5 separate regions of the Homo sapiens genome follow, and regions 2, 3, 4 and 5 are each reported to be linked to region 1. The links are microRNA targets in miRTarBase. Many come from high-throughput screens and were not tested one by one. Region 1 holds a microRNA gene; each other region holds the end of a gene's coding sequence.
The links. The annotated mature microRNA hsa-miR-485-5p reads AGAGGCUGGCCGUGAUGAAUUC and lies in region 1 at 2,890-2,911, shown strand. An mRNA with a match to its seed (bases 2 to 7 or 8) in the 3' UTR can be bound and repressed. Matches are read on the target gene's strand: a 7mer-m8 pairs with bases 2 to 8, a 7mer-A1 pairs with bases 2 to 7 and ends in A, and an 8mer does both.

Region 1 (5,104 bases):
GGAAGGCTTCCCGGACAGCGTCCCGCCTTCAGGCAAGGGGTCTTGGCTTCACCTCCCACCCAAGGTATGTATGTGAACGGGCCATCGCAGTGCACTAGCTTCTTCATGTGCCACAGCCATGACCAGAATCGAATCTCTGAGGAAGATGGTTACTTCTAAGGCTGTGATTTTCTGGAAGGGGCTTTGGTGTCTGCACTACATTATTGGGGGAAGTTGACCAGTGAGAGGCCCATTCACACAAGACGTCTGTCACCTGCTCCAAGTGACCCTCACCCTTGGTAAGATGAATCTCTGGAGACATGCTGGCTCGGTAGTGTTACTGTCATCAGCCGGACTGACTGATAGGTAATTGGTCATCATTATTGCTTTTGTTCCAGGGCAGAATTTTTGAGTGCCAAATCTTGCCAGGGAAGGGTTTCTGGAAGCAGCACCGCCCTCTGGGGAGACTTGGCATCCACATCTGTTGGAGTTTGTGGAGAGTTAGTTGAGCAGTCTGAGCTTTGTTTCTGAGGCGTCTCCCTGAGCTCACTCTCCTGCCAGAGCTGTGTCCTGCCCATGGCCATAATGGCTATTGAGAGGGTTGGTGACTTTGGCCACCATGATTTTGTTTCGATAAAGTTCTCTCTTTTTAAAAAAATCAGATTCTTTTGTTTATAGCATAACTACATGGTTCATGAGTTGATCAAATAACAAGGAATGACTTGGTCATTCCATAAATAGTGATGGAGTGCACACTGTGTTCTAGGTGATTCTGGACCTTAGCAGAGAGCAGTGAATGAAATCAAGTTCTTGCTCATGTGGACTTTACATTCTGGTGGAAGAGACGGATGAGAACACATGAATTAGGAAGCGTAATTTTGTCCACTGCTAGGTTTTATGGGGAAAGGGAAAGCGGGTTACAGTGACAGAAAGAGGTAAAAGCAGGTGGACCTTTGTGTTAAATACAGGGGTCTGGAAAGCTCTCTCTGAGGATGTGGGTGGGAATGGAGTGGGGTGGACCAGAGGAAGGTCTGGGGTAGGAGCATTTCAGGAGGAGGGCAAGGCCCATGGAAAGCCCCCTGGCATCTTTAAGAAAAAGCAAGAAGGCCAGTGGGATTGAACCGAGCTGCTGGGAGTCGCTGGGTCTGAGCTGGGAGAGGCAGGACTCCAGGTTTTATTCTGAGTGAGATGGGGGATTTGGAAGGGTTGTGAGCAGGGGGGATGCGTGGTCTGTGTTGGAAAGATCACTCTGACCACAAGGGCATTGATAGAGAATCTACCCAGGGCAGTGATGGGGAACCTACCAGGAGCCTGGCGTGCCTGAGCTGGGCAGTTTCTCTAGGGGCACCTGCAGTGGCAAAAGGGGGCCCCCTCTGGACCTCCCTAGTTCAGTGGGCCCTGCGGGAGCCTGGCTGGCACCTTGATGTGCTTGATGGATAACTCAGTGTGCTCTGTTGAGAAGTCCAAGGCCCTGTTCAGAAACCCTGGGGTCTACACACTGCGGAGTGCTCCTGGCGTGTGACAAGTGGCTTCCCTCTTCTTATTTCTAAACCTTGTGCGTGTGGATTCAGGACCACAATTTCAACTCCAGGGAAGGGGGACTGTGCCAGCACCACTCCAAGGGAGGTGAGTGAAGGGTTGCCCAAACTCCAGTGTGTTCCTAGGACACCCGTAAGCTGCCTCACTAATGCTCGGTGTCCACTCTGTCCACAGGATGGTGGTTGGCAGCCACTCCCCTTGGAGAAGTGGAAGGGGACTCCTTGTCTGTCTTGTCTCTGCTTTTCTGTGGTACTTGAAGAGAAGTTGTTCGTGGTGGATTCGCTTTACTTATGACGAATCATTCACGGACAACACTTTTTTCAGTACCAAATGCTACCTCTAAGGACTTCCTGGACACAATGGCAGCTTCAGGAAAGATAGTCTTTGTGTCAACCATGTGGAAAAGCCAAGAATGGATGGCGGGCCATGGACAATGCGCTGACCTAGCTGTAAGTCACCTGGCCCGATAATCCGAGCCTCCCATGCACCTATAGGAGGTCTTCCCATGGGTCTCACCAACTCTGGGGAATCAGCTGTGGTTCTGTCACCAGCGTCACCTCACAAGACTTTGAAGAGAGGCTCCCTGGGCCCCAGGCCGACTTCCAGAAGAGATGTTGGTGTCAGCACCGTCCAGGGTGTGTGACTGGTTGACCAGAGGGGCATGCACTGTGTTCACCCTGTGGGCCACCTAGTCACCAACCCTCAGCATCACTCCCACTCCAGGAAGACTTTCCAGAGCTCCCACCAACTCTGGGGAAGCGGCCATGGACTTGCTGTGACTGCTTGGTGGACTGCGATGACACGTGCTCTTGGGGGTGTATGTTTACTTAAAATGCAATGAGTCAGCCTTGGCAGCCCCTTCACCACTGTGACAGCCTCCTTGAAGTGTTGACTTCCGATGTGGGACGCCATGTTGTCTTCTGTTGAGGGACCTGATGTGGGCCAGCTTTTCTCCTGGGTGTGTGACTGAATCCTTCTTCCCAGAGCATGTGCTGCCTTTGTTAGGTCTGTCACGTCGTCCTCTAATACCCAGCATCCTGTCTCTCCCTAGGAGGCTCCATGGAGATAATGCGGCTTTGGGAAGCGGCCATGATTCTCCTGTCAGGGACCAGTGAGCTACGCAAAAGCTCCCTGTCTTGTCTGGAAGGACGAACTGCATCCTTGCTGCTGGGGAGAAGGCAGTGCCCTCAGCACTCCCTTAAGGTAAGTGCGCCTCGGGTGAGCATGCACTTAATGTGGGTGTATGTCACTCGGCTCGGCCCACTACCCAATACTATCCCACCCATTCCTAACAGGACTCCCGAGAAGGGCGGCCACCTCTGCCAGAGAGGCAATGGATTTCTCACCAGTGTTCATGTGTGGTACTTGGAGAGAGGCTGGCCGTGATGAATTCGATTCATCAAAGCGAGTCATACACGGCTCTCCTCTCTTTTAGTGTCAAATTCTGCCTCGGAGGGCTTCCTGAGCCAGTGCTGCTTCCAAGGTAGGTTTCTGGATGGCTGACCCCATGGCAAGCATTTTCCTGAGGATGCATGTAACTGACCTACTAACTTTAGAGTCCAAGCTGACCCTAAAACAACTTCCTGGGGCACTACCAACTTTAGGAAAATCGAGAGAGGTTGTTGGGATGCCCTAATTTTTTAAAAGTTAAGATTGAAATACACATGGCTGACTTCTTTTTTTATTCCTATCAAATTCAACCTTGGAGTTGAATCTTGGGCATCTAGAAGCATCTTTTATTAGTCAGCCGTCGGGATACAGAAGAAAACAGGAACAGGACTCTGTGCGACCCCTGGTTTACTAACCCACAGCAGCCTTACACCCTCCAGAGAATTCCTGTAAGGGAATCCCAGGTTTACCAAGGAGGCAGTGCTTAGCCTGCTTTTGCACACACATTTGTGTGTGGTTTGCTTCATATTTAATGACTCCTGTGCCACTGACATCCTTGCATTATTAAATGTTGCCTGCATGGCCAGCTGAGCACAAGAAGTGGTATTTCTGTGCACACTAATCCTGGCTTGGTGAACCTGGGGTTGGCCGGAGAGCATGGGTTTGAGCCACCTGGTCCACTCATCCTCAGGGTCCCATCCACCCTCAGAGGCCACTCCCAAGCTGCCCAGGCTGTGCAGAAGATGCAGGAATGCTGCGAGCAGTGCCACCTCATGGTACTCGGAGGGAGGTTGTCCGTGGTGAGTTCGCATTATTTAATGATGCCCAATACACGGTCGACCTCTTTTCGGTATCAGATCTCACCAGGTGTCTTCTTGGACCTGATGCCGATTTAGGGGACACCATACTCATGTTGGTTCCACACCAGTGCAACTGAACATGTGTGTGGCCCTGGAACCAATGGGTAGGTGCTGCTAGCACTCCTAATCCTCAGCCAGTGCATTCCTGGGGAAGAAGCATGTGATCTGTGCTCAAGACCCCTCTGTGACTGAGGAAGTGGTGGTGCCCATGATGCTTCTGGGGTTTTGTGTTTTTTTTTAAAGAAAAACAATGTATAGTTCTCTTCTCTTTCACTATTAAATCTTACCATGGAGGAAGGACTTCTTAGACATGTTGACAAATTCAGGGAAGGGGCGTTGATTTCAGCATTCTTGGGGACTCACTGGAAGGGTGACTCACCACATCTGTTGATCTGGAGGCCACAGCAAATTTAAGAACAGAAGACAGTTGCATTTTCAATTTCTTGTTTTTCTTTTCAAAAAGGATAATTATTCTACCTTATTACCATATTTATGAAAATGACACATGCTTAATAAAATTCAAGCGATGTGGAAAAATCTAAATGAAAAAGAAGGAAAATTGCCCAATTCTCTGGCACCCAGAAATAACCATTAAGGGCTTTAGAAATTTCATACACCTGTCTGAGCATACATGCAAATAGAAAAACAAGACAGACGCAGGGAAAATATGAGATCACACTGTACCTAATCATTTTATTAAAAATGCTAACTATAATTTTCCTTGAATTTATCATAAAAAACAAGCTAAAGGAGATTGAAATGATTGATAAATGTTTCTCGCTTTACCACCACAGGTAGCAACTCCTAAAAGATCCCTGTAAAATTAAGAAAAATTAGAGTGTAAAAATTAAGTGGTTAGGATTGTTATGGTTTTTAACTATTTCAATTTCACTCCTAGTTCAGAAAGATAAAGAAGTCAGCATTCTTATTCTTCCTTTGCTTACTATCTCCTGCTTTTTCTCAATTATACATTTTAATTTTACATTATAAATATCTGCAATTTGTTCTAGAACTATAATTCTTGCAGGTGTTTTGCCATAGTTCTATATTTAAATGAATTCATTTCTGACCACAAGGTTTGTTTTTTTTTAACTGAGGTTTCTCCGTTCTTTAGTTTTTAAGTTTAATTTATCTCTCAATGGAAATGATCTTATTGTTTCTGTGAGAATAGCTCATAGACACTACCCTTGAGTTCCTGTGCATTTGAGAGTATATATCTCTTTATGCACAAGGGACAGCTTAACTAGGTATAAAAGTCTCAGCCTACTTGTTTTTTCTCAGAAATTTATAGCTATTGTCCACTGTTTTTTGCATTGAGGCTTTCACTAGCTGTCTTA
Region 2 (5,104 bases), not on the chromosome of region 1:
GTTTTCTTTGAAATACTTATAGTAGGGTTGTTAGGTGCTTTTTCTGAGGCCTATTCTGCTCTCATTTTAGGTGGCCTCTATCAGCAGAGACTGAGACATACATAGTGGACAGCTGTGAGGACCCTGGGCAAGGGAGATTCAGAAGGCATGGGTCAGGGACTGGTGGAAACACTAGTCTGCTAGAACTCATTAGGAAGTGAAGCCCAGCATTTGCATAATGCAGCTGTGAAGGCGTCTGGTGATCATAAATGTCTCCATGGCCCTTCTCAGCCCACCAATGTGCTCCAGCAGCCACTCACACAGCCCTGCATGCAGGTTTGTAGGTAGTCCTGTCAGATCTGCTAGAATCAAGACCTTATAGTCCAGGTCTCAGTTTGAAGAAAACAGCTGTCTACCCACTCTTGTGAAAAGATTCTGTGAAATTTAACTTTGCATTGCAAGTGTTTGGGAAACAGGTGTAGATTTCTTTGAGGATGCTTACAAAACTACAGTTGTTTTTTTTGAGATGAAGCCTCACTGTCGCCCAGGCTGGAGTGCAATGGCGTGATCTCGGCTCACTGCAACCTCTCCCTCTGGGGTTCAAGTGATTCTCCTGCCTCAGCCTCCTGAGTAGCTGGGATTACAGGTGCATGCCACCACGGCCAGCTAATTTTTGTATTTTTACTAAAGATAAGAAAAATGTTCTCTCCACAGTAAGAATCAATATTATTTCATCACTGATATTTTCCGTCTCTGACTTGAAGCTACCAACTAACTCCAGCAGAAATGTTTTTGGCTTATTATGGACAATCTGTTACACAGCAAGCACCATCATGCTTGTTCACTATATTTATGTATAGAAACATCCTCATAAGGCCAGGCGCAGTGGCTCATGCCTGTAATCCTAGCACTTTGAGAGGCTGAGGTGAGCACATCACAAGGTCAGGAGATGGAGACCATCCTGGCTAACATGGTGAAACCTTGTCTCTACTAAAAATACAAAACAGAAAATTAGCTGGGCATGGTAGTGTGTGCCTGTAGCTACTCAGGAGGCTGAGGCAGGAGAATTGCTTGAACCTGGGAGGCAGAGGTTGCAGTGAGCCGAGATCATGCCACTGCACTCCAGTCTGGGTGACAGAGCAAGACTCTGTCTCAAAACAAAACAGAACAAAAAAACTTCAGAACTTATGAAGCCTCCCTAGTATTTACCTGAACTAATTAGCTCAATAAATTTACATATGTCAATTATAGAAAGTGAAATGAACAATAGCTAAAGTAGGTTTATATAGAAGTCTCCAATTAAATAAACAAAATCGAATATCCTAACTCAATATAACTTAAAACACTAATTGTGGAATTGCACCTAAAAATTATTTTGTGTGCACAACTAAATTTCATAAAAATCATTCTTATAATCCCCAGTGAGCTTACATAATACCTCATAAACTATAAAAGAAAAAATAATAAAAAAGAAAATTATGGGTCTAGCATGAGTACCAAGCAAGTAAAAAAAAAGTTTGCATGGGGAGATTCTGAACCATAAACCATAAGATCTTACAGTAATGAATTCAATAGAAAGCAGACAGTATAGATTTCCTTTCAGCATTTTTGAGGTTTTTAGTTTTCTAGTAAATTAGTCACCTTATTAAAATTACTTGTTTTGCTTCAATATTGATTTTTTCTTCCTAAAATAGGTAGACACTCATACAAGAACAGTTACTTACTCCATAATTTTCTTACACCTAAGGTTTATCTTTAGAGTAATGTATGTGTATATTTAACCCTATGTAAGTCAAAACTAAAACTCTGTATGTGTTTCAGGCAGAGCGGCCACATAGTCAAAGAAAAATATATACCAATGTTTATTCATGACTCAGGAATGTATGGACTTTATTTATACTTCTATATAATTTTTATAATTAAAATGACCCTGTAGTCAATAACAATTTAATTGTACATTAAAATAATGAAGTGTAGAATTGGCTTGTAATACAAAGGATAAATGCTGAAGGTAATAGATACTTTATCCTGATGTGACTAATACATATTATATGCCTGTATCAAAACATGTTATATATTGCATAAATATATACACATTTGGCCAGGTGCAGTGGCTCATGCCTGTGGTCCCAGAACTCTGGGAGGCCGAGGCAGGCAGATCATGAGGTCAGAAGATCGAGACCATCCTGGCCAACATGGTGAAACTCCATCTCTACTAAAAATACAAAAATTAGCCTGGTGTGATGGTGGACGCCTGTAATCCCAGCTATTCGGGAGGCTGAGGCAGGAGAATCACTTGAACCGGGGAGGTGGGGGTTGCAGTGAGCCAAGATCATGCCACTGTACTCCAGCCTGGGTGACAGAGCGAGACTCCATCTCCAAAAAAAAACCCAAACAAGTAGTGGGCGCCTGTGGTCCCAGCTACTTGGGAGGCTGAGGCAGGAGAATGGAGTGAACCTGGGAGGCGGAGCTTGCAGTGAGCCAAGATCGCGCCACTGCACTCCAGCCTGGGCGAGAGCAAGACTCTGTCTCAAAAAAAAAAACCAAACAAACAAAAAAAATTATGAATAGCACAAAGAATAAAATAAGGTAATTAAAATCATACTATGTACCCACAGAAATTAAGAACAGTAAGTTTAAATAAGACAAAAAAGAATATTTAACCTATAGAAAAATATTCTTTAACTTATTTGCAGTTGAAAGCCACTGGTGAAATAGATTAATAGAAATGTTAGTCCATTATGTTACCAAATAGTATATTGTTACCATCTTTTACATACACTCTTGAGTAAGGTGAAATAGGTTAAAGTTAGAAGCATAATAATGCTTCATTGAATGTACAATGGTCTTAACACATTTTTTTAAAAGTTATATTTACATGTAATCTAAAAATTTAAAAATGTACATTTAATTACATAAAATTACAATAAGTAAAATGACTTACTAATTTAACCAATTTTAACTAAAATAAAAAACTTTTGTCACTATAATGCAGAAGAATATTACTCTGAAAACCTATCTCCTGCATCACTCCTTTATAAGTTAACCACAAAGAGCCTCTCCAGTTACATTTTCATCACGCATCTTTTTTTTTTTTTTTTTTCTTTTTGAGATGGAGTTTGACTTTTGTTGCCCAGGTTGGAGTGCAATGGTATGATTTCGGCTCACTGAGACCTCCACTTTCCAGGTTCAAGTGATTCTCCTGCTTCAGCCTTTGAAGTAGCTGGGATTATAGGTGCCTGGTAAATTTTTGTATTTTTAGTAAAGACAGGGTTTCACCATGTTGGTCAGGCTGGTCTCAAACTCCTGACCTCAGGTGATCCACCGGCCTCAGCCTCCCAAAGTGCTGGGATTATAGGCATGAGCCACCATGCCTGGCTGCATCTTACACTTTAATATCCTTACTGTTCCATAAAAAATGTTTTAAATAATGCCCACCTAATAAAAGAATCTCTCATATCTTTGGTGCAGCAACAATTGGTCACATGCTTTCACATGTGAATATAGCAGGAATGAAAAAAGAGCATAAAGTTATTTGAGAGTTTAATTACATCATTATTCACTAATTTAAAAATCAGTAATTTTTTCAAGATAAAAGTATACTTTAATTGTAATTATAACTGAAAATCTTCTACTTCTTTTAATGTTATATACAAATAATTTATCCACCAAGTTTTATTTTGTGTTGTTTTCTGTACTTAGCACTGATTTAGTGTAATGTCTGAAGTGTCCGCGCCTTAGATATTTCTACTGTGAATTCTCAGATATTTACATAAACTTAATTTCGGATTAAATTTTTTTCATTTTTACTGCATCTGCAAAAACATATTTTAGTATGAACCCTGTGGTGTTTTCTATGCTGTGGTTTTTTTAAAAATGTTTTTCCAAACTGATTACATTTGTAGGGTTTTTCTCCAATATAAATTCCCTGATGTTGAATAAACTTTGTACTATCAACCAAGCATTATAGACCCTCATGTTTTATAAGCTGTAGTTTTTCAAAACTGTTTTTACAAATTTATTACATTTTCCAGGGGTTTTTTCCAATATAAATTTTCTGATGTTGAACAGTATTTGAGCAACTGCTTCAGGGTTTTCTTTAGTACAAAATGTGTACAATAAGATCTGTGATGCAAGTAATGGTACTACAACCCTCTTAATATTTGTAATGTTTGTCTTCAGAATGAATTATCTTCTTCACTTTAAAGGCTTTTATTTTCTGAAAGATCTTTTGACACTAGTTGCATCTATAATGGTTTTATTAAGTACAGACTCTCTGATGTTGAGTAAGATATGAGCACATATTAATGGCTTTTCCACATTCTTTGTGTATATACCTTTTTCCAAGTAAAAATTCTTTCCTGTGCAATAAGGTACGAGCATTAATTAAAAGTTTTGCCACATTCTTCACACTTGTAGAAGTTTACTCCAATGTAAATTATCTTACCTACAATCAAGTGTGACAACCATGTAAAGCCTTTATCACATTCTTTACATTTCTAGAATTTCTCACCAGTATAATTTATTTTATGTTTGAAAAAGTTTGAGGTGTTGTCAAAATCACTGTCACATCTTCAGGTTTGTAGAGTTTCTCTCCAGTATGAATTTTGTTATGTGTAGTAAGGTTTGAATATTGGTTGAAAGCTTTGCCACATTCTTTACATTTGTAGGGTTGCTCTTTAGTATGAATTCTCTTATGTGTATTAAGGTGTGAGGAATAGTTAAATGCTTTGCCACATTCTTCACATTTGTAGGGTTGCTCTCCAGTATGAATTTTCTTATGTTCAATAAGGTTTGAGGATCGGTTAAAAGCTTTGCCACATTTTTCACATTTGTAGGGTTTCTCTCCAGTATGAATAATCTTATGTGTAGAAAGGGTTGAGGACAGTTTAAAAGCTTTGCCACATTCTTCACATTTGTAGGGTTTCTCTCCAGTATGAATTATCTTATGTTTAGTAAGGGTTGAGGACCACTTAAAGGCTTTGCCACATTCTTCACATTTGTAGGGTTTCTCCTCAGTGTGAATTATCTTATGTTTAGTAAGAGTTGAGAACTGGTTAAAAGCTTTGCCACATTCTTCACATTTGTAGGGTTTTCCTCCAGTATGAATTTTTTTATGTGTAGT
Region 3 (5,104 bases), not on the chromosome of region 1:
CCAAAAGTGACACCTGAGACCCCTTGTGAAAATGAGTTTGCTGAAGGCAGTGCCTTGCTTCCAGGCAGCGAGGCTGGCGTTTCTGTGCAGCAGGGGGCTGCAAGTCTTCCTCTCGGTGGCTGCAGAGTTGTGAGTGACTCTCGCTTAGCAAAGACTAGAGATGGCCTGTCCGTGCCAAAACACAGTGCCGGGTCCGGAGCAGAAGAATCCAACAGCAGCTCCACTGTGCAGAAGCAGAATGAGCCAGGGCTACAGACAGAGGATGTGCAGAAGCCACCACTTCAGATGGACAACAGCGTCTTTCTAGATGACGACAGCAATCAGCCAATGCCCGTGAGCCGGTTCTTTGGAAACGTTGAGCTCATGCAGGTAAGAGCGGCGCCTTCCTCCTCCCGTGGGTACTCAGGCAGCAGCTGCACATTCAGGTCACACACTCCCCACTCAGTGCAGGTAAATAATGCCTCGACACAACATTAAACATAAACTAATCATTTTAACCCACGAGGAGAAAATGAAACCGTTGGCTAATTGGGGGCTCTCCCTGCATCTCCCGAGCTGAGAATCACTGCTCTCGGGAAAGGTGTGTTTCCATGAAATCAGGTTTGTGGTTTTTTTGAACATCCACCCCGCGCTTGCTGTTAATTTCTTTTGTTTTGAACCCAGCACCTTTCCTTCTCTTTACTCGATCAGCCCAGTAGGGAGGAAGTTCTCATCTAGAGGCGAGTGCTGGGACTCAGGCATTTTCACACGTCTAAAAGGGAAGAGCGCTCTGCGAGCCCTAGAGCCGCTGGGTGGGGCACATTGCAAATGCGGGTGCAGATATGTATTGCTCATGACTGAAGTCATGTTTTCTTCTCCACTAAGGACCTCCCACCTGCGTCTTCATCTTGTCCTTCAATGAGCAGACGAGAGTTCAGAAAAATGCATTTCAGAGCCAAAGATGATGATGATGACGACGACGATGATGCAGAAATGTAGGGGCCATACAAAATAATGTCCTTGAGTATTTAGTACCATTAACAATTTGACAATTTAGCACATTACAAGATTTATATAAAATGTATCTCCAAGAGAATGTCTTAATCAAACTTCAGAACTGACCCATCTAAGTCAATAGTGCAAAGCACCCAATACCTGTGGAGGATGTACTCATGGGAACTAAAACTCAAACCATCTTTGAGGTTGCAAAGCTGCTGTACTGTGCCAATGTCCTTTCTTTTTTTTTTTTTTTTTTTTTCCTTGGAGACAGAGTTTCTCTCTTGTCGCCCAGGCTGGAGTGCAATGGCGCAATCTCGGCTCACTGCAACCTCCACCTCCTGGGTTCAAGTGATTCTCCTGCCTCAGCCTCCTGAGTAGCTGGGATTACAGGCATACACCACCACACCCAGCTAGTTTTTGTATTATTAGTAGACACGGGGGTTTCTCCACGTTGGCCAGGCTGGTCTCAAACTCCTGACCTCGTGATACGCCCGCCTCAGCCTCCCAAAGTGCTGGGATTACAGGCGCGAGCCACCATGCCCGGCCAGTGTCCTTTCTTATACACGTACATACATGATGATGGCTTGAGTCAGCTGCAGGGCAGTGGGCTTAATGAGAGGGATCTTTGTAAAGACAGCTCTTCACTTCAGCTCAGTAGCTTTGGTCATAGGCAAGTTTGTTTTCCATTATCATAATTTGATGATTCTTGTGATGAATTCAATGCTAGTTCTTAAAGAACTCTTTTATTTCTGTATGTGGAGCTAATGTTTACCTTGGAAATTTTGCAAAATACATGTAAGAAAGAAATAAAATATATTTTGAAAATATTTTGAAAGCAGTCGTATGTTCGTAAAACCGGATTCCTTTCTCAATGCCTGGGAGCCGAGTAGAGGAAACACATCCTGCCTCAGTCTCATGCTCCCAAATGCTCATAAGGCTGGGTCCATCTTTTTTTTTTTTTTTTCTGAGACTGAGTCTCACTCTGTTGCCCAGGCTGGAGTGCAGTGGCACAATCTCGGCTCACTGCAACCTCTGCCTCCCGGGTTCAAGCGATTCTCCAGGCTCAGCCTCCCAGGTAGCTGGGATTACAGGCATGTACCACCATGCCTGGCTAATTTTTCGTATTTTTAGTAGAGACGGGGTTTCACCATGTTGGCCAGGCTGGTCTCGAACTCCTGGCCTCAGGTGATCCGCCTGCCTCGGCCTCCCACAGTGCTGGGATGACAGGCGTGAGCCACTACGCCCGGCACGGGTCCATCTTTTAGACCTGTTAACCACCGAGGCCCCCGGGACAGGGCCTCTTCCCTTCTCTCGAGTGTACTTCCACTCCCACTTTGCTGCAGAAGTGTCGGGCTTTCCTATCCTGTGTGGTGGAGACGGTCAGCCATCCAGCGAAGGCCATGCTCTCCTCCAGGCCATAGAGAGGTCCGTGTGCAGCTGCCTGACGAGAACTGCATTCCCCAGCCCCAGCGGCGTCAGGGAGCACCTCACCGTGTGTTCTCGCCCAGGGCAGTGGAGACAAGCCATTGGGAGTGCTCTCTCCATGGCCTCTTCCTGCCGCCACCTGCACATAGAAGCTGAGTGGACCAACCAGGAGCAAGCTGGGGTCCCCGGGTGACCAAGGACAAGGAGAAGTTGCCTGCGATGTGGGAAGACTGGGCCTTTTCATGAGGGAACAAGTGAGTCTTGCTGGTTTTGAGCTTTTATATGTTTCTGGTTTAATTACAAGAGCAGCTAGAATTAACCCTGTGAAAATGTCCTATGAAGCACAGGAAGGATTTTCTATAACAGATAAATTGGAAGCAAAATATAGTTGAAGTGCCCTGTAAGAAGTGTTTCCGCTCTTTACTATTCAAACACTGCCCTCCCTGAAGGTGTCATTCTCCACTTCTAATGTGATCCTTTTCTCATGAGCTGTGACTTTCACCTGTTTTGAATAACTTTGTGATTTATTGATCAACAAACTATAATTTGGAAATGTGGCTTATAAAGTCATTTTATGGTAGCCAGGGAAAATAATTTACAACTTTTGCCGGGCACAGTGGCTCACGCCTATAATCCCAACACTTTCAGAGGCTGAGGCAGGCAGATCACCTGAGGTCAGGAGTTCGAGAACAGCCTGGCCAACATAGTGAAACCCCGTCTCCACTAAAAATACAAAAATTAGCCGGGCGTGGTGGTGGGCGCCTATAATCCCAGCTACCTGGGAGGCTAAGGCAGGGGAATCACTTGAACCCAGGAAGCCGAGGTTGCAGTGAGCTGGGATCACGCCATTGCACTCCAGCCTGGGCAACAGAGCGAGACTCTGCCTCTAAAATAAATAAATAAATAAAGTACAACTTCAGATTGCTGCATGAATAACTATTAATAACAGCACCTGGCCGGGCGCGGTGGCTCACGCCTGTAATGCCAGCACTTTGGGAGGCTGAGGCGGGCGGATCATGAGGTCAGGAGATCGAGACCATCCTGGCTAACCTGGTGAAACCCCCTCTCTACTAAAAACACAAAAAAAAAAATTAACCGGGCGTGGTGGCAGGTGCCTGTAGTCCCAGCTACTCGGGAGGCTGAGGCAGGAGAATGGCGTGAACCCAGGAGGCGGAGCTTGTAGTGAGCCAAGATCACGCCACTGCACTCCAGCCTGGGTGACAGAGCGAGACTCCGTCTCAAAAAATTAAAAAAAAATTTTTTTTTTAAATGACAGCACCTATCCTGGTGGTGACGAGAATTTTGCCATCCTCTAAGCAGACTTCAGTGAGGTGCACTGTCCCAAATGATGATACACCTGCAGAGGAGACGCAGCACGCAGAGTGGAAAGTGTGTGTGTTCCTGGGGCCACCCCTATTCACTCACAGTGGTTAACCTGCACTAACAAGCACTGCCAGGTAGAAACACTTCCTAGTCTACATGTGGACTGTAGCCTGCACAGACCTAGGGGGACTGACCAAAGGGGGGCGAATGAGGGAATAAAAGATAAGATACAAAAGAGTGTATTTGTGCTCACGCACACCCCCTGGCGCAGGCCGACTGTGGCTCTGCCTACAGCGCTTCCTCCTGAGCTGCAGGAGGGCCATGTCTTGTGGTCGTGTTTGCTGCAGCTTTGCCGTCTGGATGGAGCCTGGCACTGAGCTGGTTGAGGCCGTCTGCAGGCCTTTACTGGGCTCTTCCCTTGGAAGCTTCTTACTGATGCCAGGACCTCCCAGCAGGTGACCCTCAGCCCCACAGATCACAGAATTCCACACTCTTAGCTCCTAGAACTTTTCTCCCTCTTGTGTGAGAATGCACAGACCACACACTCTTTCTTTGTTGCAGAGGTTCAGCCACCTTTTCTAACCTGAGACTCTGGGTGACATAACTCCTGATAGGTGATAGCTCTTTGTAACAATCACCAGCACCTTGCCCAGCCAAGGGCCCGGAAGCAAGAAAAAAACAACCAAAACACCATGTCACAGCCAGGAGAGCCTTGCACGCTTCACACACAGCTCAACAAGCCTGGGTTTCCGGTGTCTCAACTCCTGCAGAAATGAAGCCTCAAGTCAGGAAGGGTGAGGAGGGGCACGGACAAGGCCCAACGGCAGCAGGATGGCGCAGAAAGCCTGAGGGACACAAAACCTTCTAGGCCTAGTCGTAGGCAGTGGGGCAGCACCGTGGAGCCACGTGGTAGAGGGATAGCCGCCCTGTGTGTCCAGGGCAAGGTGGCACAGCATGCCTGGACCGCTGAGAAGGAAGGACTTCCCTCAAGAATGTGTCTTGCGCCGGGTGCAGGGGCTCACGCCTGTAATCCCAGCACTTCAGGAGGCCAGGGTGGGTGGATCGCCTGAGCCCAGGAGTTTGAGACCAACCTGGACAACATAGTGAGACCATCTCTACAAACATAAAAATAAATTAGCTAGGCATGGTGGCACATGCCCGGGGTCTCAGTTACTGCAGAGGCTGAGGCAGGAGAATCACTTAAACCCAGGAGTTCAAGGCTGCGGTGAGCTGAGATCACACCACTGCACTCCAGCCTGGATGACAGAACAAGACCCTGTCTTAAAAAACAGACAGACAACAAAAGAATGTGTCTCTGAAAAAGGCCCACGTCTGTGGCTGTTAAACAGAGCAGCTCGTCTCCTGAGGCTGGAGCGAT
Region 4 (5,101 bases), not on the chromosome of region 1:
TCTTGTGGCTGATGTTTGGGCGGAGGTGGACACTCCCACACGGGGATGTTGTCCTGCAGACCCCAGCCACAGGTGGGCACTGACTCCAAGGCCCCTTCCACAGCTGAGCTGCCACAGTGTGGGGCTCAGCACAGGGTGCCCTCTGCCCACACGATGCCCTTCCCACCCCTCCTCACACTGGGGAAGGAGATGGTGCTTGTTTGTCGTCAGGTGCTTCCTCTTCACACACATCCCTTTTGTTAGGATCAACAAGGCTCACCCATATCAGCTGAAGAGTCGGTGGAGAAGGAATCCTGTTTGCTGAAAGGTGATGGATGAATAGTATCCAATGGAGCAACAATGAAATTGTTGCTTCTGAAGACTGTTTCTCACCTGGGGATTGGGGACATGGGCCCAGACAGCTATGCGCTGGTTCACAGTCTGCTATTTCATTAAGAACCGTAGGAAATGTAAAAATAAGGCAAAGGAATACAAATGAATTGAAAGGGTTCTAGAATATCCTTTTTAGGAAAGCAAAGGGACAGGGAAAGTGTAGTTGGTGAAGCCTGATCACTCATGTTCCAAGATGAGAGGACAAAAATTCACTTAGAGAAAGTTGACAGAGGTAGTCAGACATCAGCATAGTCATCTCCACTGAAAGTTTGGCTGAAAGGTCAGGGTGGCGCTGAGGGGACAGCAATGAAACCCACCCGCACCGGGTGCTCCTTCGCCGTTAGAGCTTCCTGCGACTGCAGTGGTGGCGGCGTGTGGTTTCGCTGCTTGGTAACAGTGAGCACAAACCCACCCTCTCTTCTCTTCTCAGAATTTGAGGTTAACATCGTGGTGCTGCTTCACCCTGACCACCTCATCACGGAGAACTTCCCGCTGAAGCTCTGCAGGATATAGCCCGGAGGAGGGAAGCATAGAGAACGGGAGTGGCCATCTGGAAATCCAGCTGGTTATCCAAATCCTAAGGGGAGCTACAGCCAGCGGCATATACTTGTTTTTGTGATTATTCTGTATCAGAAATGAAACAGACCCTCAAATTAACTTTCCTTCCTCATTTCTTGAGGCTTCTGCTTCCAACAGGCACCTCTAATCAGACCTTTTCTTTGAAATTCAACAAGATTTCTTAATGCTATTTGCCAAGACCATTTCACAGAAAACATTGACTGTGGCTCTTGCCTTATCTGTTCCTTTTTAGGTACAGTAAAACAATTGTGACAGCAGTTTGAGCTTGCTGGAGAGTGGCATCATGGGGACAAAAGGAAACCTCTGACTTGCTAATGGATGTAGCCAGGGACTCCCCATAGCAAAGGGTCTGTGGCCAGTTGACATCCAGGATGGCTGCAAGCGCACTTGATGGTCAGGAAGTTTGCAGATACTCGCCAAGGCAGAGCGCAAAGTGCTAGCCACTGGAAATGCATGACTTCCCTCCACCCCTACTCTATTCTGTAGTTTTTTGGTTTTGTTTCTGAGACGGAGTCTCAGTCTGTCACCCAGGCTGGAGTGATCTCAGCTCACTGCAACCTCCACCTCCCAGGTTCAAGCGACTCTCCTGCCTCAGCCTCCCGAGTAGTTGGGATTACAGGTGACTGCCACCGTGCCCGGCTAATGTTTGTATTTTTAGTAGAGACGGGGCTTCACCATCTTGGCCAGGCTGGTCTTGAACTCCTGACCTCGTGACCCACCCGCCTTGGCCTCCCAAAGTGCTGGGATTACAGGTGTGAGCCACCACACCCAGCCTCTGTAGTTCTTTTTACAACATTTTTCATTATAACTTTAAATTTTTTAAGCAACTGGAAAAGTGTTCCTTGCTCTCTTGGGGGGATTTGGCTGGTGCCGAAGTGTTTCTGAAGTCTCAAGAACTGCCATAAAATCTCACGCTGCCATTTCCCTGAACAGATACATACATAGAGAGAGACAGTTTTCCAAACTGTGTCACGCAGGCTGAGTGCACTGGCAGGATCACAGCTCACGGCAGCCTCAACCTCCCTGGCTCAAGCGATCCCTCCCCTCAGCCTCCTGAGTAGCTGAGACTACAGGTGAGTGCCACCACACTCAGCTAATTTTCAAATTTTTTGTAGACAGGGTCTCCCTATGTTGCCCAGGCTGGTCTTGAACTCCTAGACTCAAGTGATCCTCCTGTCTTGGCCTCCCAAAGTGCTGAGATTACAGGTGTGAGCCACTGTGCCCAGCAGTTTCCCAGAATATATTTAAATGCAAAGTTACATGAGGGGAAAACATGTATGTTTGCTCCTGTTGTTACTGGGTAGGTTCTGAACAGCAGAAACCCATGTGCAGGGTGGGCTGGTGAAGGCCCCTCTCCGCAAGGTGGTAGCAGGAAAAGGTCCTTGACTTGATGAATTTGGTCTGCCTCTGAGCCACTGGAGGAAGCTGTTTTGAGCCAGGGTTTTTTGGCCTAAAGCCAGCATTTCCTCAGTCTCCCTTTGTGGTTCGAAGGATATGGACTATTGCAATACATTTCTTCCTTCAAATCCTGCCACTGTTTTGTTGGCCCACAACTAATAGGACCTCAAAATAAGCCATGCTGCTTTGCACACACACTAGCCTTCTTTTGTACTTTTCATTCTGGATGGGCTTGGCCAAAACAGGCTCAGGCCAAAGACCTCCCAAGCTGTATGTACTTCCAGTATCCTGAAACAGTGTTTGGTGACATAATGCCAAGGGTAAACAAGCCTGATTTAGGCACTGCTTTATCCAGGGGCTTCACCCATGAAATTAATAAAACTTATCTGAGTCACTTGAAACTTGGTTCCCAGAAAACACATTTCTGGTTTATAATCTCCTTTTATGCTCACCTGACATTAATTATCTATCCTTGATGATGTGTTTAAACTGAGTAGCAGAAAACAGAGGCCACACTTTCTGGGAAATTTTAAAGGAAGAAACCATTTTTAATGAGATGAAAATATTTAACGAATTTAAAAAGCTAATGACAATTTTGAGAAAAGGTTTGGGATGTATATTGCTATGTAATTTAATAAACTGATTTTATGGATATAAATATGACTGCTTTCCTTAGAGAATAATTATTACCTGAAGCGCATCCAGACAACGTGGCTACCTTTATCATTTCATTCAACCCTGAGTGGCCCAAACAAAGGCCTCAGGCCGGCCACTTCCTTCCACTTCTTGGTCTGACCTCTCCATGATCTGTTACTAGGCAAAACTCAGATGTTTGGCTACCTTGGGCTGCAACTGTCCCACTCTTGCCCAGGCTTGCTGGAGTTGGGGTTATCCACAGTCAGAGGTTCAGAGTTGTCAAATTCTCCAATTAGAGCAAGAGATGAGGAAAGGAAAGGGAGACGAAAGAAAGAGGCTGTGCCTCAGAAATAATAACGCCGCATATCTACAACTATCTGATCTTTGACAAACCTGAGAAAAACAAGCAATGGGGAAAGGATTCCCTATTTAATAAATGGTGCTGGGAAAACTGGCCAACCATATGTAGAAAGCTGAAACTGGATCCCTTCCTTGCACCTTATACAAAAATCAGTTCAAGATGGATTAAAGACTTAAACGTTAGACCTAAAACCATAACCTAGGCATTACCATTCAGGACATAGGCATGGGCAAGGACTTCATGTCTAAAACACCAAAACCAATGGCAACCAAAGGCAAAATTGACAAATGGGATCTAATTAAACTAAAGAGCTTCTGCACAGCAAAAGAAACTACCATCAGAGTGAACAGGCAACCTACAAAATGGGAGAAAATTTTCGCAACCTACTCATCTGACAAAGGGCTAATATCCAGAATCTACAATGAACTCAAACAAATTTACAAGAAAAAAACAACCCCATCAACAAGTGGGTGAAGGATATGAACAGACACTTCTCAAAAGAAGACATTTATGCAGCCAAAAAACACATGAAAAAATGCTCATCATCACTGGCCATCAGAGAAATGCAAATCAAAACCACAATGAGATACCATCTCACACCAGTTAGAATGGCGATCATTCAAAAGTCAGGAAACAACAGGTGCTGGAGAGGATGTGGAGAAATAAGAACACTTTTACACTGTTGGTAGGACTGTACACTAGTTCAACCATTGTGGAAGACAGTGTGGCGATTCCTCAGGGATCTAGAACTAGAAATACCATTTGACCCAGCCATCCCATTACTGGGTATATACCCAAAGGACTATAAATCATGCTGCTATAAAGACACACGCACGTGTATGTTTATTGCGGCATTATTCACAATAGCAAAGACTTGGAACCAACCCAAATGTCCAACAATGACAGATTGGATTAAGAAAATGTGGCACATATACACCATGGAATACTATGCAGCCATAAAAAACGATGAGTTCATGTCCTTTGTAGGGACATGGATGAAATTGGAAATCATCATTCTCAGTAAACTATCGCAAGAACAAAAAACCAAACACCGCATATTCTCACTCATAGGTGGGAACTGAACAATGAGAACACATGGACACAGGAAGGGGAACATCACACTCTGGGGACTGTTGTGGGGTGGGGGGAGGGGGAGGGATAGCATTGGGAGATATACCTAATGCTAGATGACGAGTTAGTGGGTGCAGCGCACCAGCATGGCACATGTATACATATGTAACTAACCTGCACACTGTGCACATGTACCCTAAAACTTAAAGTATAATAATAAAAAAGAAAAATTGCTTCAAATGAACAACAAAAAAAAAGAGGCTGTGAACAATGAATCTAAAACAATATTTTCTTTTGGGAAATGCCCGTTTTGGCAGGAATACATTTTGGCTCCGCTGTGCTGTGAATTCGGAGGAAAAGTAGGGAGGGCCGGAAAGCCCAGGGCTTCATGCAGAGTAGACATCAAGAACCCACCTGCTCTGGAGTCTTGGTGGGCAAGGGGAACGAACCTTCCAGTCCATTTCTACCGTCACCATAATTCCTGTGTCTGAATCTGAATCACCTTCTTCAAAAACTGGGGGCTGAGGTTGCCTCCACATGCTAACGCTGATTCAGGGCGGCAGCAGATGCTGGTGTTCTCAGTTCCTTCCTGCTTCCGCTTCCTGTTCAGGAACAGGGCCGCATTTTCCCATCCTCTTCGGCTGTAGGCGTGGTCACGTGACCAGGAGGGCGGGGCGCGCCTGC
Region 5 (5,104 bases), not on the chromosome of region 1:
CTGATCGCATCATGAATACCTTCAGTGTGGTGCCTTCACCCAAAGTGTCTGACACCGTGGTCGAGCCCTACAATGCCACCCTCTCCGTCCATCAGTTGGTAGAGAATACTGATGAGACCTATTGCATTGACAACGAGGCCCTCTATGATATCTGCTTCCGCACTCTGAAGCTGACCACACCAACCTACGGGGATCTGAACCACCTTGTCTCAGCCACCATGAGTGGTGTCACCACCTGCCTCCGTTTCCCTGGCCAGCTCAATGCTGACCTCCGCAAGTTGGCAGTCAACATGGTCCCCTTCCCACGTCTCCATTTCTTTATGCCTGGCTTTGCCCCTCTCACCAGCCGTGGAAGCCAGCAGTATCGAGCTCTCACAGTGCCGGAACTCACCCAGCAGGTCTTCGATGCCAAGAACATGATGGCTGCCTGTGACCCCCGCCACGGCCGATACCTCACCGTGGCTGCTGTCTTCCGTGGTCGGATGTCCATGAAGGAGGTCGATGAGCAGATGCTTAACGTGCAGAACAAGAACAGCAGCTACTTTGTGGAATGGATCCCCAACAATGTCAAGACAGCCGTCTGTGACATCCCACCTCGTGGCCTCAAGATGGCAGTCACCTTCATTGGCAATAGCACAGCCATCCAGGAGCTCTTCAAGCGCATCTCGGAGCAGTTCACTGCCATGTTCCGCCGGAAGGCCTTCCTCCACTGGTACACAGGCGAGGGCATGGACGAGATGGAGTTCACCGAGGCTGAGAGCAACATGAACGACCTCGTCTCTGAGTATCAGCAGTACCAGGATGCCACCGCAGAAGAGGAGGAGGATTTCGGTGAGGAGGCCGAAGAGGAGGCCTAAGGCAGAGCCCCCATCACCTCAGGCTTCTCAGTTCCCTTAGCCGTCTTACTCAACTGCCCCTTTCCTCTCCCTCAGAATTTGTGTTTGCTGCCTCTATCTTGTTTTTTGTTTTTTCTTCTGGGGGGGGTCTAGAACAGTGCCTGGCACATAGTAGGCGCTCAATAAATACTTGTTTGTTGAATGTCTCCTCTCTCTTTCCACTCTGGGAAACCTAGGTTTCTGCCATTCTGGGTGACCCTGTATTTCTTTCTGGTGCCCATTCCATTTGTCCAGTTAATACTTCCTCTTAAAAATCTCCAAGAAGCTGGGTCTCCAGATCCCATTTAGAACCAACCAGGTGCTGAAAACACATGTAGATAATGGCCATCATCCTAAGCCCAAAGTAGAAAATGGTAGAAGGTAGTGGGTAGAAGTCACTATATAAGGAAGGGGATGGGATTTTCCATTCTAAAAGTTTTGGAGAGGGAAATCCAGGCTATTAAAGTCACTAAATTTCTAAGTATGTCCATTTCCCATCTCAGCTTCAAGGGAGGTGTCAGCAGTATTATCTCCACTTTCAATCTCCCTCCAAGCTCTACTCTGGAGGAGTCTGTCCCACTCTGTCAAGTGGAATCCTTCCCTTTCCAACTCTACCTCCCTCACTCAGCTCCTTTCCCCTGATCAGAGAAAGGGATCAAGGGGGTTGGGAGGGGGGAAAGAGACCAGCCTTGGTCCCTAAGCCTCCAGAAACGTCTTCTTAATCCCCACCTTTTCTTACTCCCAAAAAAGAATGAACACCCCTGACTCTGGAGTGGTGTATACTGCCACATCAGTGTTTGAGTCAGTCCCCAGAGGAGAGGGGAACCCTCCTCCATCTTTTTTGCAACATCTCATTTCTTCCTTTTGCTGTTGCTTCCCCCCTCACACACTTGGTTTTGTTCTATCCTACATTTGAGATTTCTATTTTATGTTGAACTTGCTGCTTTTTTTCATATTGAAAAGATGACATCGCCCCAAGAGCCAAAAATAAATGGGAATTGAAAAAAGCTGCGAGATGTGTGCTTATTTAGGGAAACACGGCTGGCTGATGGAGGCATGGGGCCTGAGTTCAGTTGCACTGCTCTCCTTAAATTGACACTTAATATTGAGTCCCTGTCCTACGGATTCAACCAACTGGATATTGGGAAAAGAGTTGTACTGGACATGTATAGACTTCTCATTATTCCCTAAACAATAATAGTATAAATTATTTACATAATATTTGCATTAGATTAGGTATTACAAGTAACGTAGAGATGATTTGAAGTACACAGGTTATATGCAAGTACTACATTTTATATGAGGGACTTGGGTGTCTGCCGATTTGGTATCTCAGGGAGGTACTGGTAAGGACACTGACTGCTTTATAGACCCTCACATCATTGTTTCTGGTACCCAAACTGCTCTGAGCACCAGTCAGTCTTTACTGTAGTCTCTGACAGCTCACTACAGCCTTGATGTCCTGGGCTCAAACAATCCATCTCATTCTCCCAAGCAGCTGGGACTGTAGGCATAAGCCAGGTGAGCCAGTGCACCAGGCCCACCAATGAGTCTTAACTGGGGAAGGCATAGGCTTAGATGCAGGATCCAGGGATGGAAAATGGAAGCTGAGAAGAATGACAAATCACGTGTAACTGGTTTCCAGACCAGCATCCACATCCTCTGGGAACTTGCAGAAATAAATGCAAGTTTTTCATCCCACCCAGATGTACTGAACCATAAATGGTTGAACTGGCCTTGGCCACCCAGCCCAGGATTCCTTTGGGTTATGTGTACCCATGGCCATTTCCTGTGATCCTGTGGGCTTAGTCAACCTATGACACCAAGATAACTAGTGAAGCCCTGGTATGGTGGCTCCCACTTGTAATCCCAGCACTCTGGGGGGCCGAGGCAGGAGGATGGCTTGAGCCCAGGAGTTCCACACCAGCCTGGGCAGCAGTGAACCATCTAACAAAAAAAAAAGCTGGGCATGGTGGTGCATGCCTGTAGTCCCAGCTGCTGGGGTAGAGGGGGGTGGTGGTTGTTGGGGGTAGGGGGGTGGGGATTGGATGGGAGGATTGCCTGAGCCTGGGAGGTAGAGGCTGCAATGAGCCCTGACCCTACCCCTGCACCCCAGCCTGGGTGACAGAGCAAGACCTTGTCTTTTTTTTTCTTTTTTCTTGAGATGGAGTCTTGCTATGTTGCCCAGGTTGGAGCACATTGGCGCGATCTTGGCTCGCTACAACCTCTGCCTCCCGGGTTCAAGGAATTCTGCCTCAGCTTCCCAAGTAGCTGGGATTACAGGCACCCACCATCACGCCGGGCTAATTTTTGTATTTTAGTAGAGATGGGGTTTCACCACGTTGGCCAGGACTGGTCTCAAACTCCTGACCTCAAGTGATCCACCCGTCTCAGCCTCCCAAAAAGTTCTGGGACTACAAGCATGAGCCACCGTGCCCGGCCCAAGCCCAAGACCTTGTCTTTAAAAAAAAAAAAGGATAACTAGGCGGGATTGCTACCTTATGGTCCCATTCTAAAACAATCTGTACCATCTACTACCTCATACTTTTAAGTTCACAATGCAAGTCTCAAAGCTACCCTGAAAACAATAATTCCTTTTGCCATGTTTTCAGGAATTCTAGGAACTAGTATTATTCCCAACATTCCTTCTATTTTAGCATGCTTTTCTGACTATAATACACTGTTGGGGGGAAAAATTAACTCTAAAACTCTTGACAGTATATAAGTAACTTGCTTTTCTCCCATTCTAGAAAGCCTATTGTATGCAAGAAAGCCTATTGTATGCAAGGGAAGAAGCTACATTCTAGCATTCATTTTCTTTCTAATAGAGCCAGGATCTTGCTTTGTCACCCAGGCTGGAATGCAGTGGTGTGATCATGGCTCACTACAGCCTTAGACTCCTGAGCTCAAGTGATCCTCCCACCTTAGCCTCCCAAGTAGCTAGGACTATAGGCAAGAGTCACCATACCTGAGTCTAGCATTCATTTTTTTTCTCTTTTTTTTTGAAACAGTCTCACTCTGTCACCTAGGCTAGAGTGCAGTGGTGCGATCTTGGCTCACTGCAACCTCTGCTTCCCAGGTTCAAGTAATTCTCCTGCCTCAGCCTCCCAAGTAGCTGGGACTACTACTTGGCATGTTTCACCCTGCCTGGCTAATTTTTGTATTTTTGGTAGAGACAAGGTTTCGTCATGTTGGCCAGGCTGGTCTTGAACTCCTGACCTCAGATGATCTGCCTGCCTTGGCCTCCCAAAGTGCTGGGATTACAGGCATGAGCCACTGTGCCGGGCCAAGCATTAATTTCCAGTTGCTTCTGTTTTATTAGTACTTACTTACAGCAATTTATTTGGGTAGCAAAGTTGAAAACCTCCAGCCCATCCCTCAGTCTTGGTCAGGAAAATATTCTAGACAACAGGCTCAAACAGTCTGATTTAATTAGGAAGTTAAATAAGTTGAGGTGGGGTGGAGTGGGATCATCAGAAGGCTGACATGGGACCGCTGGAGTTGGCAATCATAGCAGTGTGAGGTTGGCAAGGGGAGCAACCCCCTTCAAGACAAGGCACAAACTATTTGGCAAGGAGAGATGAGGGGTGGGACCTCACTGTCAATGGACATGCTCAGGGAGGCCAGTGGGTTACATGCAACAGGAGGATCATTCAGGCAACTTCAGCTATGAGGCTGGGCATCTGTGAGGGCTGAAGGCTCAGGCTGTTCTCAAAGGCTTGTGATTCACCTGGCAAAAAGACAACAGTAGATGACACTTGGGAACATTCGGGAGGCTGAGGCCCCTACTCTCCCGGGCCCCAGTTTAGACGAATGGGCTATAGGCAGAACACACACGGCCAGGGTTCTTTCTGGTGCCCTACCACCTGTTTCCCCAAACAAAGACATCAGGACCCACATACAATAAATCACTGAAGAGAGGAGAGGGGGCAGAGCCTTGTTTGCACACTCTCCTTAGCTCTGAATATTCTACTGCAGGCCTCCAGGAGGCTCCAAGGAACCCAGCTTGAAGGTCATTGGTATGATCCAGTGCTTTTATTTACATACGCTTTTTTTTTTTCTTTTTTTTTTTGAGACGGAATCTCACTCTATCACCCAGGCTAGAATGCAGTGGTGCGATCTTGGCTTACTGCAGCCTCCGCCTCCTGAGTTCAAGTGATTCTCCTGCCTCAGCCTCCCGAGTAGCTGGGATTACAGGTATGCGCCACCATACCCAGCTAATTTTTGTA

Region 2: the mRNA of ZNF43 is a reported target of hsa-miR-485-5p. Seed matches in the 3' UTR shown: 7mer-m8 at 2,409-2,415 and 7mer-m8 at 2,254-2,260.
Region 3: the mRNA of C1orf174 is a reported target of hsa-miR-485-5p. Seed matches in the 3' UTR shown: 7mer-m8 at 1,342-1,348 and 7mer-m8 at 1,476-1,482.
Region 4: the mRNA of VPS26C is a reported target of hsa-miR-485-5p. Seed matches in the 3' UTR shown: 7mer-m8 at 1,544-1,550, 7mer-m8 at 1,721-1,727, 8mer at 1,961-1,968 and 7mer-m8 at 1,998-2,004.
Region 5: miRTarBase lists FLOT1 as a target of hsa-miR-485-5p. Seed matches in the 3' UTR shown: 8mer at 4,546-4,553.

What each region holds. Positions count from the first base shown.
Region 1 is chr14:101,052,538-101,057,641 of GRCh38, forward strand. MIR485 (microRNA 485) reads left to right here and starts at 2,882; the gene lies at 2,882-2,954. MIR382 (microRNA 382) reads left to right here and starts at 1,769; the gene lies at 1,769-1,844. It overlaps MIR134 (microRNA 134), which reads left to right and starts at 2,150; the gene lies at 2,150-2,222. It overlaps MIR668 (microRNA 668), which reads left to right and starts at 2,721; the gene lies at 2,721-2,786. It also overlaps MIR323B.
Region 2 is chr19:21,803,106-21,808,209 of GRCh38, forward strand. ZNF43 (zinc finger protein 43) reads right to left here. Exons shown (of 4, transcript NM_003423.4): 4 at 1,841-5,104. The coding sequence ends at 4,502. Among named protein-coding and RNA genes, the nearest start is that of ZNF43, 31 kb to the right of the region's middle.
Region 3 is chr1:3,885,834-3,890,937 of GRCh38, reverse strand. C1orf174 (chromosome 1 open reading frame 174) reads left to right here. Exons shown (of 4, transcript NM_207356.3): 3 at 1-369; 4 at 865-1,805. The coding sequence ends at 978. Among named protein-coding and RNA genes, the nearest start is that of C1orf174, 12 kb to the left of the region's middle.
Region 4 is chr21:37,221,328-37,226,428 of GRCh38, reverse strand. VPS26C (VPS26 endosomal protein sorting factor C) reads left to right here. Exons shown (of 8, transcript NM_006052.2): 8 at 803-3,007. The coding sequence ends at 885. DSCR9 (Down syndrome critical region 9) reads right to left here. Exons shown (of 3, transcript NR_026719.2): 3 at 4,693-5,101. Among named protein-coding and RNA genes, the nearest start is that of DSCR9, 15 kb to the right of the region's middle.
Region 5 is chr6:30,723,541-30,728,644 of GRCh38, forward strand. FLOT1 (flotillin 1) reads right to left here. Exons shown (of 13, transcript NM_005803.4): 13 at 4,169-4,605. The coding sequence ends at 4,576. TUBB (tubulin beta class I) reads left to right here. Exons shown (of 4, transcript NM_178014.4): 4 at 1-1,882. The coding sequence ends at 857. Among named protein-coding and RNA genes, the nearest start is that of TUBB, 5.7 kb to the left of the region's middle.